Linked DNA regions of Homo sapiens: region 2 is linked to region 1. The links come from fine-mapping of genetic effects on gene expression. Tissue or cell type: fibroblasts. Region 1 holds a variant in brackets; the other region holds the start of a gene. All regions are shown on one strand. Distances are from middle to middle.

Region 1 (6,448 bases):
AAAATACCAACTGGTGGAGACACCTTCCCACCAAAAGCAGAGAAAAACATCTGAAGAAGTGGACATAAACATGCCAAAAAGTACAAATGATAGACTGTTCATTAAACAAAGCATTATTAATCATTAAAAACTGCCTGTTAGTGCATACAATAAAATTTGTTCCTAATTATTGATTCTTACCCTGATATGGCGCCATATCTTTTGACCAAAGAGTCTCTGTTCCGTATTGAGTTTCATCATATAAAAATTTAACTTCTGTCGCCCCAGCATCTTCTGCATTCTGAATTAATTCCTAACCAAAAAATATACCAAAAAATAGTAATTAATAACACAGTAATCTACTGCTCATCTTTGTATTTATCTATAATATTTAAGAAGTTAATATACTTAAATAAAGGAAACCCACTATTTGCAACATTACCTTTAAGATCTGGTGAGGCTACTACTGAAAGTAATTGTTACATAGATGTGACAGTATGGTTGAAAAGTCCTTCTCCAATTATTTGCACTTAAATTTTGTCTTTTAATTTGCTATCACTTAGCAAATTAATCCTGGGCCCTATTTATAACTGTCTCATATTTACAATCTACCCAAAGCTTTTGTTCAAAGGAAATTATTCTATTTCCAAAAGCTGCACATATCGTCCTGTGTGGCAGGTAACTTAAGCTTGAGTGATTGCCAAAAATAGACCTTTTTTATCCTTTGCTTACTAAACTTACCTTTCCACAGAAAAACAATAAAACCAAATAGTAGCAATCTATATATACCCTTCAATTGGCTGCTTTCTTGAGAGCCTGAGATATAAAAATGTCTTTGTCCTGCACTAAACTGAAAGCTTCCAGATGGTCAGGACTGACTCATTCCTTTCATCAAGAAGAAAGCACTACCATTTGTTTGGTGAATGGTGGGTGAGTGGAAGGGTGACCAGCTCCCCGTAATGTAGAAAGGAAAGGGCAAACTGCAAGATTTGCCTCAACAAAATTTCCAATCCTAACAACCCCAATCACTTCTGCACACCTACTAAAATCACGCTGGGCTCCGTTCAGTTTGAAGGGAGCTCCAGAATCTGAATCAAGAATCAGCTCCTAGATCCAACCCCATGATCATCAAAAGAGCTTTTTTACTTCCCCAGAGCCTTGGGATCACTAAATTGGAGGTACAGATGGGCAAAAATTGAAGAGCACTTTAACTGATACTACAACAATGTCAACAGTGATGCCTACATCAGAGTAGAGAGGTGGTACGATGACTACATGAAACAAAATAACTACAAGGAGACTGAGGGAGCAGAAGTGAAAAGTCAGTTCTGAGATTGTGCTCAGTTCACCCAGTGCATCCCAAAGGGCTGGAGTGTGGTACCCACCAGCTGTTCCACCCCAAACATGAACAGCTAAGTCGTGCCTCCTGCAGCCTCATTATCAGCTAGTGATTCTTCCTTGTTACGTAACTAACTATTTCTCATGGGATTTTAATTTTTTAGGCCTCATTCAATCCCAGAGAATCCCTAAAAATTAACAATCTTATTTACATTAGGATATTATAATAATATGAAGGATGGAAATAAGAATTAAATAGGTAGTGAAAAACAATGTTAACTTACAAAATGATAGCACTTTAGATGTTCGACCTTGTTTTCATTCAGGTATCTATTTATTATTTATGTGTACTTTAGGGAGCAGAGAGGCAGAAAACTAAAGATAAAATCTAAGTCCCAGGTTCCACTCATTCTCAAGTTGAATAAAAAATAGGATAGGAAGCTTTTCCCCTAAATTGCAATCCTGAGAGATTGTTTGTAAACTAACTCTGGGAAACAGCAACAATACATTTTGTATTTGGTCTTGGGCAAGCCACTAAGATCTCTGGACCTGTTTCAGCAAACACAAATACCATAGAAGGTGGTGGTGTAGGTCTTGGTGATTTCTAAGACTCCTATTAAATCTAAAACAGTCTAATTCTACCACAACATCCAAGGAACAAAGATTACATTGAACTGGCTACAATACAAATATATCTATAAGCAAAGCAGAAGGCGCGTAGCCCTCAGCTGTTTGCCATAGACCTTTCTCATTTCTCAGCAAGGATCCCACTCGCTCACTTCTAAACAGATGACAACCTACTCCTGTTACCACTATACCTTTATTTTAAATGTATTCTATTCACTTCTTTCTACCCCAAAACCACCTCGTAGCAATACTCTTTCCATCCTCACTTTCCTAATAAGTCAATACAAAAACTGTTTTTGAATTCGCTTTCTGTGAACCACTGGTGCCTATGCTGAAAGATGGACTGCTCCAACAGCCCAGTCTCACCATGATCACTAAAGACACAACAGTCCTCAGTGAGTGCCTACCTGAGCATGACTCTCTTAAATTAAAGAGACCTAGTCCTGATTCCCTCACAGTTTACAATCTAAACTAGAAAATATAACCAGGGCCAAGATACTGAAGGTAATAAACACTAAACAAGCTAATGGGAAGGAAAATGCATAACAACTGGTCTACTTTGACAATTAAGGAAGTTTCTTATTAAACACAAAATCTAATTTTTGCAGTATCTCCCATTATTGCTTTCTTTGATGATTATTGGTTTTTCTTTTTTTGTTGTTTTATTGTTTGTTTGTTTTTTGAGACGGAGTGTGGCTCCTGCTGCCCAGGCTGGAGTGCAGTGGCGCAATCTCGGCTCACTGCAATCTCTGCCTCCGGGTTCAAGCGATTCTCCTGCCTCAGCCTCCTGAGTAGCTAGGATTACAGGCAGCCACCACCATGCCTGGCTAATTTTTGTACTTTTAATAGAGAC[G/A]GGGTTTCGCCAAGTTGGCCAGGCTGGTCTCGAACTCCTGACTTGAGGTGATCCACCCGCCTCAGCCTCCCAAAGTGCTGGGATTACAGGCATGAGCCACTGCGCCCAGCCTGTTTTTTAAAGAGTATAATCAAACTAAAAAAACATATTACAAAAAGAAATAAGTAAATAAAATAATTATCCTATTAAATAAACCCTCCCAAAATAGCAAACCTCTAAAATCAGGAGTCCAATGGGCATGCATTCAAGCCTCTAATCGTAGAATGTATTTGGCTGGCCGGTTGGCTGGCTGGCTGGTTGGTTGGTTGGTTGGTTGGTTGGTTGACGTGTAAAGCCCTGCACAATGATCTACAGAGAACATTCCCGGAGCGACACTGCTGATTACAGCACCCAGTAGCTTAGCGCATTTCTTTGCCCCAGAAAACCTCACATATTTATATCAATTCCATTCTCAAATGGAGCTATACACTGCTATACACTGCAGCCACAGAGGTATAATACAGCTATTTGAATCTAGACAACATTTTAAAAATTTAAACACTAATAGGACTTTCAAGTAAATTTACTTCATCTCATTTTTATCAAAGTAAATAACACATGAACACGACATGTGCCCCACCTTAAGAATCTGTCCTCCTTCTGGATATCTTCTCAAAATGTCCTTGAGAAAATCAACAAGTGGTGGCGTTGTCTGACCAAATCGACCTAAAATACGGAGCACATTTTAAGTGAGTTAGAAAAAAAATCCCATGAATTGTCACCAATGTGTGACTTGAATCTGAGACATCATATAACTATACAAGTTATGGTTGCATATATCTCACTGCAGCACCCTGGTACAGAAATCTACCTGACGAAGCAATTCAGCAGAAAGTAAAGCAGATTCAATTGTATCAAATCTCAAGTTGTTTTGTTTTGTTTTGTTTTGTTTTTTGAGACAGAGTCTCGCTCTGTCGCCCAAGCTGAAGTGCAGTCGTGTGATCTCCCCTCACTGCAAGCTCCACCTCCTGGGTTCATGCCATTCTCCTGCCTCAGCCTCCCGAATAGCTGGGACTACAGGTGCCCACCACCATGCCCAGCTAATTTTTTTGTATTTTTAGTAGAGATGGGGTTTCACCATGTTAGCCAGGATGGTCTTGATCTCCTGACCTCGTGATCCGCCCACCTTGGCCTCCCAAAGTGCTGGGATTCCAGGCGTGAGCCACCATGCCTGGCCTCAAGATTTTTAACTGAACTACAAATAAAGTCTCAAAAAATGTTCAAAAATATAATAACTATTAATTCAAAAACAAGAAGCATGGTGCAGTGGGGAGGAGTGTTGATATTTTCCAAAGCAAATAAAATAAATGATGTTATTTTGTGGCTGCTTTGCCATTAAATAACAAGCCAGAGACAGAGGTGCCTATTATCACATTCTTAATATTCTCAAATTCAACCAGTGTTCTGATTGTTCTGAAATTCAGCAGTCACTGTCTCAATGGCTGTCCACTTCAAGTACCTTCAAGCCTTGCCTAAACTAGATATTCTTAGACCAACTGACCAGGTCACCTTCAGACAAGTGACAGGGCTGTAGGAAGAACAAGAAAATGGGAAGTAATGCCTCAAATACACAGCATTTCAAAAATCTGTTTATCAGTATAAAGAAACCTCTGCTTAAAAAAGCAAAATTGTCACTATAAATTTATTTGCGTCATTTTGGTACAACCACATACTGAGACCAAGCTCAAACAAGACTCTGTTTCCACAGACTTCTATCCCACCCATTCTTTTTTTTTTTTTTCAGACGGACTCTCCTTCTATTGCTCAGGCTGGAGTGCAGTGGCGCAATCTCAGCTCACTGCAAGCTCCTTCTCCCAGGTTCACGCCATTCCCCTGCCTCAGCCTCCTGAGTAGCTGGGACTACAGGTGCCCGCCACCATACCCAGCTAATTTTTTGTATTTTTTAGTAGAGATGGGGTTTTACCGTGTTAGCCAGGATGGTCTGGATCTCCTGAGCTTGTGATCCGCCCTCCACAGCCTCCCAAAGTGCTGAGATTACAGGCGTGAGCCACCATGCCCAGCCTATCCCACTCACACTTCTTTTTTTTTTTTTTTGAGACGGAGTCTTGCACTGTCTCCTGGGCTGGAGTGCAATGGAGCGATCTCAGCTCACTGCAACCTCTGCCTTCCAGGTTCAAGCGATTCTTCTGCCTCAGCTTCCCAAGTGGCTGGGAGTACAGGTGCGTGCCACTACACCTGGCTAATTTTTTCTATTTTTAGTAGAGACAGGGTTTCACTGTGTTAGCCAGGATGGTCTTGATCTCCTGACCTCGTGATTCGCCTGCCTTGGCCTCCCAAAGTGCTGGGATTACAAGTGTGGGCCACCACACCCGGCCCCCACTCATTCTTATAACTAGCTCCATCCACGCTTGTCTTCCTCTGGCCCTGATGTCCCCTCACTCTATCCCAATGGGATATGATTTCATTTCATTTTTAAAACATAATCTTTAAAACAGCTTTATTGAGTACAACTCAAATACAAAGCACTGCAGATATTTATTTTGCAACTTGATGCATTTGGAGATAAGTACGTACCATGAAACCATCAAACTATCATTGTCAGTGCCATAAACTTATCCATCATCTCCAAAAGTTTCCTCCCATCTCTTCTGTTGTGCTTTATTAAACTTTTATGGTAAGAGTAATTAATATCAGATCTACCCTACCCACTTAGTAAGTTTTTAAGAATACAACACAGTATTGTTATTCATGGGCCCTGTACTGTATAGAAGATCTCCAGATCTTCTTTATTCATATAGCAAACTTTGTACCTTTGGCCAATGACACCCCATTTCTCCCTGCCCCCACCCTCTGGCAACCACCATTCTACTCCCTGCTTCTTTGTTAAAACTCAATCTCGGCTGGGAGCGGTGGCTCACGCCTGTAATCCGAACACTTTGGGAGGCCAAAGACGGTGGATCACTTGAGGTCAGGAGTTCAAGACCAGCCTGGCCAACATGGTAAAACCCTGTCTATACTAAAAATGTAAAAATTAGCTGGGCGTGATGGCAGGCACCTGTTTTCCCAGCTACTTGGGAGGCTGAGGCACGAGAATCACTTGAACAGAGGCTGAGACACGAGAATCACTTGAACCCAGGAGGCAGAGGTTGTGGTGAGCTGAGATTGTGCCACTGCACTCCAGCCTGGGCGATAGGGCGAGACTCAGTTTCAAAAACCAACCAAACAAACAAACAAAAAAACTCAATCTTTGTGCAACCCAACATGGTATATACTTCTGGTAAAGTCAATATTATACCTCCCCCTTTTAAGCCTTTTGATTGAAGGTTTACAAAAAGATGACAATTTTTGGAAGTCAGATCTCCAATCTTGATCCAGTCAGATAACTGAAAAAAAGCAAAAGAAAATGTATGAAAAGCAATACAGTCTCTAATACTGTAAATTCAAGACATTATCTCAAATTTTTTCACTTAAGTAATGCTTGTTAAGTCTTCTTATCATGAAGGAAGTTGTCTGGAGAAGTGAATATTCCACGGAACACAGATTTAGTCAAAAACTTTATTTAAAAATTTAAGGGACTAAAAGATTTTTCGTTAATTACAAATAGATAAAAATATATATATTTCTCCATTAACATAATTTAAATTTTTAAAT
Region 2 (5,000 bases), 190 kb before region 1:
TACCCATAGGCTTACTAGCTTTGTAATCTGGAACAAATTATTTTACACCTAAATGACTGTTAGACTAGATTTCTTTAAGGTCTCTTGGAGCTTTAAAGTATTATGATTCCTTTGAGAACATTTCAAAATGTGTGTGTGTGAGTTACAAACTTAAGCTGCCTACATTACAAACTGAAGGTCTTGCTTTAATAATTTCAACTAACTGATAAAATCAAAGGCTTCTTTATGTGATTCTTCTGCCCTACTAAACATAGGTGTGGATAGTATTAAATGAATCTGTAAATATGAGTGGGGATCAAACACATCACCTGACTAACATTTTTACAAAGCAGTTCCCAAAACACTGAAAAGTTCATTGCAACAAAACCAATTTACGATTGATGAAGAGGTATCTCAATTGTAACCTTTACATGCATGACATTTCAATCAGAATATTGAGTTAGCAGTTTCAGACTTTGACTTTTCAGACATACACTCATACAAAAATACATTTCATATCATTATTGTTTAATATATTATTTTTGTTTAAAATTGATAGTTGTCCTATAATTTTATGTCTAGCTGAATTCCCAAAGTAGAAGTACTAATGTGCAGAGAATTCATGAAAGGTTTTAAAATGTCTTACAAATGTAAGATTATTTGAAGCTGTATCAGCTTGTAATTTAAGGCCTGCAGCTGCTGGTATGATAGAAGTATCAAATTTCAAAAGAAATTATGGTAGAGTATAAATAAGCAGAATGAAGAGAAAAGTCTCCTGAGAAGAAAATAAAATGAGAATGAAGCATATGCATTGTTATTGCATTGCTCCTTTTTTTCTTCATTTTTTATTTCAGGTTCGAGGGGTACATGTGCAGGTTTGTTACACAGATAAATTGCATATCACCAGGATTTGATGTACAAATAATTTCATCGCCCAGGTAGTAAGCCCAGTACCCGATAGACAGTTTTCCGAACCCCACCTTTCTCCCTCCCTCCTTCCTCAAGCAGGCCCCAGTATCTGATTGTTCCCATCTCTGTGTGCATGTATACTAAGGCACTGCTTCTTATATTCAAGGTTTAGTACTAAAATGCAAATATGAAGTATATAATTTAGTAAGTTTTAATCCTGCTGCAAACCAGGTCACATAAAAATAATGCAAAATAAAATATTAAAATTATTCAGAAGTTCGATATTTATTCTGTTGTCTTTACACCTTATAAAATGGAATGACCTAATTACTCTTAAATAAACATAAAGACAATTTAAGGTCACATTTGTTACATTCACATAATTTGTTAAACACAATAGAAATGTTAGTTTACTAGAAAAGAACTGTCATAATTTTAACATGCAGAGTTTGTTTACCTTCTATTATGGTGATCTTTGTTTAAGATTTTCTCCTCAGATGTTAAAAGTTTTTCACTTAAAGAGGCTTAGGGAAAGTGATTTTTAAAGAGTCACTGTTACATGGTAATATGCCGTTCATTTGGATGAGACTAGTATATAGGTAATAGTCACAAGTTCTAACTTGCATGTTAATTTGAAGAGATTTTTCGTAAAATTTTATCAACATTAGTTTCTAATGGAAACCAGTCTTAGAAGTTTTCTGCTGTTTGTTTGAGGTAAAGTTTTTTTAAGAAAGTTATAATTACATTAAACTATCATGCTTTAGGGTTTAAATGTTGGAAAGTTGGTTTTGTAAGAAGAAGAGTTTGGTTTCTTGTTTGTTTGTTTGTTTTGGTTTGTTTTTGGCATGCGAAGAGCTGTGTCCTGGAATTGGTGCCCAAAAAATTTTAAGTGTGGTATGAACTGTTTATGTCACTGAGTAAAATTAGACACGTCTGTTGCTAATGTGAGGGGATGAAACATGAGACAGGGCGAAACTCGTGAGAGCCCTTTCTCCAGGGACAGTTGCTGAAGCTTCATCCTTTGCTCTCATTCTGTAAGTCATAGAAAAGTTTGAAACATTCTGTCTGTGGTAGAGCTCGGGCCAGCTGTAGTTCATTCGCCAGTGTGCTTTTCTTAATATCTAAGGTAAGTGCTCAGTTTTAACTTAGATTTTATATCAGTACAAAGTACTACCTAAAAACCAAACGCTTAAGAGGTTTCTTAATATTCTTTCTTCTTTGGTGGCATAATAATAAATTTAAAATAATGTTGAATAAATTGGTGTATCACAACATAATGACATATCAAGTATCAATGAAATTCTCATTTCAACTAAGTTATTCTGACTACAAATATGCTACATATTTTTAGCATAATCCTATATTTCTAACATTTTTAATTTGTAGAATGCCAAAGGTAGCATTTCTGTATTATTGGGCATTGAATTGGATCCTGTAGTTAATTTAAACAAAGTATTATCTTTAAGATCACCTACTTCTAATTCTGCTCTTAAACTTTAGTGGTAGAATTACATTTGCTTTAGATTTTCTTGATAGTTTTGTTATAGACACTAAGAAATAAACTAAAATGAATGACAACAAAAGTCCAGTGGTTTTATAAGTTGGAAATAAACAAAACAAGAGCAAAATAGCAACCTGACTCCTTCACTATTTTTGGAGTGAAAAGGGAAGAATGTTTCTTTCCCTAAATCTGGAAAATATAAAATACTGCTCAAAATATGTATGAAAAAATAAACATAAGTGGGGTAAAAGTACACATGTGCTAATGCTTCAGCTTACTGAAGTTATGAGTTCTTTCTTTGCGTTTTCTAAATTAATACATGACAACTAGCAAACACAATTTTTTTAAAGGAAGGATTAGAAAAAAATAATACGGAAAAATATAACTCAGCTGACTGAAAGATTTGCCAGCAGACCAGTACAAAAACGAACTACGGAATACACCGTTTGTTTTTTGCTTATTTTCTTGCAAACATTTTGTAGGTACAAAAAGGCACCTTTGTGGAATTTAAAAAGTAATGCTACAAGTTGGGGTTCGTTTTATAGGTTCTAGGATTCATTTCAGATTGTCTTTCAAAGACAAATGAAAAGTAGCATTTCAATGTAGTTAGATATAGCATTCCAAAGACTAACAAATTCAGGTGTCCAAAAGATATCAGCTAAGCTTGCAGTTAAAATGCGGAAAATGAAATTGTTCCATATTGTCCTTTAAAAAATGTACTTGCTAGTCATTAAACTAAGTTGTTATTAAATTGCATTAAAAATTAAATGATAGTTGTAAATTATAGTGGGTTCCCAATGTGTTCAGTTTTGCATAACTTATAGGGCCTGAGGATCTCCCTCCACTCCCTAATCTGTGGCTCATCACAGCGCTTGTGTCTTCTCAGCTTGAGGCACCAGGGCTGTGGTTTCCCAGTGGGAGGGGAGAAACTACAGCGTCCTGAGGATGACTCTGCTACTCTCCTGCTCCTTCAGAACCCACCTTGACCTTCATGACACCTTCCTGTCTCTCCCTCCCTCCCTCCCCTTCTCTCAGCCTCTATAGCACCTGTCTGGCTTTATTCTTCTCCAGACCTACTGCAGGGCCAGATAGTTCTACGACGTTCTCATGAGGATTGCAGGATCCATCACTTGCTACTTTGGCCATTTTGGATTCCAGCTTCATTTTTAATTTTATATGTTATGCTGTAGATAGTTTTATGGGAACACTGGTACAGGAGTATTTAGTAATTTGTGAATGGTAAAGGTCTCAAGACTTTTCTCAGAACCTGTGAAAATCTCACTGCCTGCTCGACTTCAGTATGACTGGTGGGTAGGACCACTGAGGAATGGGGACAGGAGGGCTTGCTGTGCCCAAAGGCGTTTGTGCTTCATCCTAAGCACCAGTGAGACCTTTGAACCTCTAGAAAAGGAGAGCAGCCCAGTCACATGGGTGCTTTGGAAGGATCACTGCAGTTGACATGGAGAATGGATTAAGGGCAGTGGAGGCGGCAGTGAAGAGTACCTTAAAACCTAGCTTCACCTTCGTGACTTCTTTAACTCTGTTTTTAAAATGCTCAATTAATTTTACTTGAGAAACATCTCTGGAAAGTCTAACATCAATGAAGAGGCTATGATTAAAAGTTTAGGCTATGGAGCCAGACTGCCATTTGACCTTGTGTGAATTACTTAATTTCTATGTCTCAGTTTCTTCATTTGTAAGGTGAGAGGAGTTGCATTGTAGCAGCTACCATTTTAACAAGTATCAAATTTAGTCTATATAAGGCAATTAGAAAGTTTCTGACTTCTTAGTAAATAGTAGCTTCCATCGGCATCACCCATCAATGCACCCTCTTATCCTGACCCCACACTGCGGGGAAGTCAGGAAGACCTCGGGAAAATGACGGTAACTGGTCAGGAACTTGAACCTGCTTCTCACAGTCCCCTAAGAAGGCGTACCAGAAAGGAGCCCTAAGCAGGCAGGAGACTCCAGGCTGAGGCTATTTCTGCTGTTTCTGTGGAGAACGTTCTCTGCACGCAGCCATGGCTGCTCAGAAGGGGTGTGTGCATTCCAGGATACAAATAGCCCTCCTGGCATTCCTGGTGGCTGCCTGCCTATCCCTAGTGGTAAGGTCTATGAAGGAAAGAAAGGCAAGTGACTGTTTACCTTTCCCATGAAAATCTTCCTTTTCTTCAACATTTTTGATTGTAACGAAAACTTTATATAAAATATTCTCCCTTTATTTTTATTTTTTTTTGAGACAGAGTCTCGCTCTATCGCCCAGGCTGGAGTGCAGTGGCATGATCTCGGCTCACTGCAAACTCACCTCCCGGGTTCAAGTGATTCTTCTGCCTCAGCCTCCCTAGTAGCTGGGATTACAGGCATATGCCACCATGCCCAGCTAATTTTTGTATTTTTAGTAGAGACGGAGTTTCACCATGTTAGTCAGGATGGTCTCGATCTGCTGACCTCGTGATCCACCCGCCTCGGCCTCCCAAAGTGCTGGGATTACAGGCATGAGCCACCATGCCCAGCCTACATAAAATACTCTAAAATGTTAATCTTGGTGAAACAATATAAGTGTGTTGTCTCCATACTGGAATGCATTTGAATGTTTGTATTTTGGCAACAT

Evidence for each region. PIP is the estimated chance that this variant, and not a neighbour inherited with it, causes the effect.
Region 2: it holds the start of SGCG, and the variant in region 1 is the best candidate, but not a certain one, in a credible set for the expression of SGCG in fibroblasts (GTEx, PIP 0.71).

Annotation. Positions count from the first base shown.
Region 1 is chr13:23,364,986-23,371,433 of GRCh38, forward strand. It overlaps SACS (sacsin molecular chaperone), which reads right to left. Exons shown (of 10, transcript NM_014363.6): 4 at 6,093-6,180; 5 at 3,417-3,502; 6 at 181-292. Among named protein-coding and RNA genes, the nearest start is that of SACS-AS1, 51 kb to the right of the region's middle. The variant G/A (reference allele first, on the strand shown) is at 2,798.
Region 2 is chr13:23,179,062-23,184,061 of GRCh38, forward strand. SGCG (sarcoglycan gamma) reads left to right here and starts at 1,918. Exons shown (of 8, transcript NM_000231.3): 1 at 1,918-2,014.